Regions from separate parts of the Homo sapiens genome. Here region 2 is linked to region 1. Evidence: fine-mapped expression QTL. Tissue or cell type: whole blood. Region 1 holds a variant in brackets; the other region holds the start of a gene. All regions are shown on one strand. Distances are between the middles of the regions.

Region 1 (2,762 bases):
AAGTGTAGATGCATCCAAGTCCCAGCCAGCCAGCCTTAGCTGTGACTCTGCAGTGCCTGGTAGAGCTGCCTATGACATTCCTCAAGTCAGCCCTGCAGACCATCCTACAACAGCCACTCCATGGAGATCAGAGCTATATAAGCTAGTTTTTTTCTGTTTTTGTTTTTGTTTTTGTTTTTTTAGTATTGAGTTGTAGGAGTTCCTTATATATATTGGGGTTTAACCCCTTATCAAATAGTTTGCAAATATTTTCTCCCACTTCACGGATTGCCTTTTCACTCTGCTGATTTTCTTTACTCTGCAGAAGCTTTTTAGTTCATTGTAGTTTCACTTACTTATTTTTTAGTTTTGTTGCCTATGCTTTTGACGTTATATTGTGAAGATGTGGAAACAGCCTAAATGTTCATCTGCAGATGAACAAATAAATAAAAATGTGGTATATATACACAACAGAATATCCTTCAGCCTTAACAAAGAAGGAAATCCTGCCTCATGCGACAATATGGACTAAGCTTAAGGACATTGTGCTGAGTGAAATAAGCCAGTCACAGAAAGACAAGTACTGTATGATTCCACTTACATGAGGTATCTAAAACAGTCAAATTCATAGAATCAAAGAGTGGAATGGTAGTTGCCAGCCACTGGGGGGAGGAGAAATGGAACGGTACTAACAACAGGCATCAAGTTTCAGTAAAGCCAGATGAATAAGCTCTAGAAATCTGCCACATTGTACCTATACAGTAGTTCCTCCTTAACTGCAGTTTTGCTTTTAGAGGTTTCAGTTACCCAAGGTCAATCACAGTCTGAAAATAGGTGAGTAGGGTACAATGCAATATTTTGACACAGAGAGAGAAACCACATTTACATAACTTTTATTGCAGTATATTATCACAATTATTCTATTTTATTACTAGCTATCATTGTTCATCTCTTACAGTGCCTAATTTATAAATTAAACTTTATCATAGGCATGGTGTCCTAATTAGGGAAAAGGAGTCAGGCTTGTAGGACCAGGGGAAAGCAAAGAGATAAAGCAAATAAGCCATATGTCTGCCTTTCTTCATGGTCCAGAACATATAAACAAAAACAGGAAGCAGATAAGCTACAGGGCTGCTTTTCTTTATGGCCCAGGACATATGGCCCTCCTGCACAGATAACGTACAGAACTCCCAAACTTCCTGTTTATCATCAAATGATTCAATTTTTCAAACACCCCGGCTGGCAGAAGAATGCAAGTTAAGCTCCGTGCTGCTTTGGCATTATCAATCAGCCCAAGTTCCGTTCTATAAAATCCTCAGCAAGCCTTTTGACATGGTTTGGCTGTGTCCCCAC[C/T]CAAATCTCATCTTGAACTGTAGTTCCCATAATCCCCCTGTGTGGTGGGAGGGACCAAGTGGGAGGTAATTGAATCATGGGGGCGGTAACCTTCATGCTGTTCTTGTGATAGTGAGTGAGTTCTCACGAGATCTGATGGTTATATGAGGGGCTTTTCTTTTTTTGCTTGGCACTTCTGGGTTCTGCCACACCGTAAAGGACATTTGCTTCCCCTTCTGCCATGATTGTAAGTTTCCTGAGGCCTCCCCAGCCCTGAAGAACTGAGTCAATTAAACCTCTTTCCTTCATAAATTATTCAGTCTTGGGTATGTCTTCATTAGCAGCGTGAGAAATAACTAATACACCTTTGTTTCCTTGCAGTCCGCTCCTTTTGTGCTGGTTCTGCCTGCTGCCTCCTGGCAATGTATTTTCATACTTTCTCTAATAAACCTGCCTTTCTTATTTACAACTGTCTTGGTAAACTCTTTTATCCCCTACTGATATGGGAGTGCTGGGAAGGGAAGAGAGTGGTCCCTTTAAATGATATGAAAGTGGAAAAGGGAAATGCTGGGTAGAGGAGGGTGTGATCACTGGCCAGGGCTCTACCCTCATGGACCTAGGTGAGGACAGGCACATCTGCCTTCCCACCCAAATGTTGCATCTTCCAAGACCACCCTGGCCATGTAAAAGCCCGAGACCCTAGCAAGGCAGAGACACAAGCGGCTGGATGTTGTGAGCAACAAGGCAGAAGAAGACATAAGCGGCTGGTTGTGGAGAGCACACTGGTGGAAGAGCACGCCAACAAGCACTGGCAAGCCATTGACCAGCAGAAGGACGCAGAATTTGGACGGAGCAGTCAGAGGCGACCTGACTCCAGGGGAAAACCATCTCCCTTCTGGCTCCCCCATCTGCTGAGAGCTACTTCCACTCAATAAAACTTTGAGTTCATTCTCCAAGCCCACGTGTGATCAGATTCTTCTGGTACACCAAGGCAAGAACCCTGGGATACAAAAATCCCTCTGTCCTTGTGATAAGGAAGGGGGTCTAAATGAGCTCGTTAACACAAGCCGCCTATGTTGTCCGGACAACTAAACAAAAAGAGCACCCTGTAACACATGCCCACTGGGTCTTCAGCTGTAAACGGCACCCCTAGACACTGCCGTGGGGTCAGAGCCCAACACCCTGCCCATCTGTATGCTCCCCTAGAGGTTTGAGCAGTGGGGCACTGAAGAAGGGAGCCACACCCCCAATGCATGCCCTATAAGGGGGAAAAGAGGCCCTTTCCCCTTTCACTACCACCGGCTCAGGTAGTCCTTGCCACCCCACAACAATAGGTAGGTAGGTAGTAGGAAAAAACATAATACAGTCATGTGCTGCACAACGACATTTTGGTCAATAATAGACCAAGTATATGACAGTGGTCCCATTAGATTATAATATTGTATTTCTAC
Region 2 (2,631 bases), 62 kb before region 1:
ATAACCGTCACCCCCTTTTCCAAGAGGGAAAGAGGTATTCTGAATGAGCGCTGCTCTTCTTTCACATATGGCTACTGTTCCCAAGAGACTCAAGTGGGCTTTCTCTTTCTCTGCTGAAGTGAATAATATAGGGTGTGGCTCTCTGGATGGCACTTACCGGTTTGTGCTACAAACCAGCAAATACACACAGATAATCCCACAGATGATCTCACCAGACCTTGTCTCCCTTCCCTCATTCCCTCAAAATCATACCCACCTAATAATGTTTAGTGCACTGCAATTGAGTATTAGCTCCCGTATCTAGCTAATAAAATACGTAAACATCCAACAGCCGGGTCCTCACACCCACACACATACCCTCGCCTTTAGAAACATTTCCACGGATTGTCACACGAGCCCCTAAACTCTCTGTCACACTCTGCATGCATCTTCCCACAGACTTGCTCACACACTGGCTTTTTATTCGCAAGCCCATGGGGAATCTTTCACCTCTTAGACAGGAATTTCATTAACGAAGGGGAGGGGATGGTAAGAGGAAAGTACAGATGCAGGGGAAATAAATGAGAATCGTTTTTGAGGGAGACCTAAAACTGTATCATCCTAGCCCGAATCTCTCCCTTTTAACTGTTCTTTATGTGTACATTCTGTGCCCAAAAGAAAACAACCTTTCATTAATTGGGCAATTGTCCAGGCTCTTAGCTTGGCATCCAGCTCTCAGAGCTGTGAAATCAACCGCACCAGATCTACGCTTTGAAATGAGGCAACATCTAACTGGAAACTCGCTCAAAGTAAGGAAGTGGATGAGAAGACTCAGGGTCCCTTTTCTCTTCCCCGTCTTCTCTCAGCCACATCTCTCTTATCCTATCTTGGTGAAGAAGCTTGCTTGGCTAGGAGAGAGGTCAGGGACGAGAAGATAGTGACGAGAAAGTTCCATGAGACTCTCAGAAGTCCCAGCCTGAACATCAAACCTGAATAACCAGGAGAGACGTAACCTCGGCATACTTTCAGTGGTTTACCTCCTGCCCACGCTGCAGGTTTTTCAGGTCCTTGCTCGAGTGTGTGCTCATAGGCGTAAATAAACGTGCTATCAGCAGCCTGCGTCAGCCAGCCCAGCTATTTAAGCAGGCTGGCATCAGCAAACACAGCTTCCAAACCCAGGGCTTGCGCTTGCCTTTGCCTCTTCCACGTAAGTACCTTTCAAAGGTCTGCCTTTTATGCAGAGGAATGAGTTTGTGCAGGAACTAGACCAAAATGCTATCGTTACCGTATTTGCTCATCTGTTGGAAAACGGTAGAGGTGAAAGGGAGAATAGGAATGACAAGCTTACCCCCAAGCAGAAGCTAGGAAATGCTGCTGGGTGTAAGACATCAGTCCCTTACAAACAAAACTGCATGGGGTCGAGGGGAATTTGGAGGAAGGGGAGTTGGTGTTGGTCTTTTGGCCAAGCAGGTGAGATGTTTTTCTTACTCGCTTCTATTTTGGAAAGATAACTTTGAAACCAGCATTTGTCAGATGCCTATGATTTTCTCATTTAGAAGCAGATTATTGTTATTCTACATCCCAGACTTTTATCTAAAATCAGACATAATATCGTTTTAAAATATGTTTTGTGTTTGACAAGGGGAAGTGAGGGAGCTGTCTCTGGATGGAGAAGTGGCTTGATTTTGAATTTGCAGTTTATTGTTACTTCTGGTTCTCATAATACTTATTTATAACAACAAAAACAGTGATTTTTTTTTTTTGAGATGAAAAGGAATCCCAGGCTCTGGGGTTTAGAGAAAGTATAGGTTTGTGATATGTGAGTGGCATCCAAGTATTCAGGGTAAACTGTTAAGTAAAGTGGAATAAGAATCATTGAATAAAAAGGTACAATCTATCACATAGTTCAGATAAGAAGCTCTTAAAGAGAAAAGGAATGCAAACAGTTCCCATGAAGTGGCACTGCTACTGGACAGGGCCCTGTAGTGTGTTTAGTTAAGTAAGGTTAAGTATAACCAGGGCAGGCAGAGAACAAAACGAAGGTGCTGGGGAGGTGGGAAGGGAGGAGAAGGGAGGAGCAGATAGTAAAGGATTTATAATTAAACAACAGATTCATGAAAAGCAGATAGGAATAGAGCAGGGCATTAATTCCATAGTCTATCCCTTTGTATCAAGAATCTGGTGAAAGCCAAGGACCTTTCTCAGGTATTCATTCCTCGCTTCCTGAGCCTCCCCTTCCACCCCACACCCCAACCCACACCTTGACTCTCACTTTCTGGACTCCTAGAAGTCCACGGACCTAAATGAAGCTCATATGCTTATTATTATTTTTTTTTAACTGGGCTGAAGCTGCCGACTGAGGAACCTCTCCAGAAGTGGTGGCGAGTTAAAAACCTTCAACGTGGCAGGCACTTCTTAGCCACCAAACTGAAGCTTGGTTTTAAGTTCATGAAGGTCTTATGTCAATCAAGCAAATAATGATTAAGGGCTATATCTGAGAAAAGATAAGTTGAAGGCCAAGAGGAAGAGAAAAGAAAAAATGGATCTTGTTCTCAAAGAGCTTGAAATCTAAAGTCCAGGGAGATAATTAGATGTTATGTCCATGCACAAAATAGGATGTGTTGAGTGATTACATTTGTATAAAATGATAGA

The links. PIP is the estimated chance that this variant, and not a neighbour inherited with it, causes the effect.
Region 2: HOPX starts here. The variant in region 1 is fine-mapped to the expression of HOPX in whole blood (INTERVAL, PIP 0.96).

The regions. Positions count from the first base shown.
Region 1 is chr4:56,617,288-56,620,049 of GRCh38, reverse strand. It overlaps a transcript of SPMAP2L not described here. Among named protein-coding and RNA genes, the nearest start is that of HOPX, 63 kb to the left of the region's middle. RefSeq lists a silencer at 747-836. The variant C/T (reference allele first, on the strand shown) is at 1,333.
Region 2 is chr4:56,679,810-56,682,440 of GRCh38, reverse strand. HOPX (HOP homeobox) reads left to right here and starts at 1,145. Exons shown (of 4, transcript NM_032495.6): 1 at 1,145-1,186. RefSeq lists a silencer at 1,098-1,147.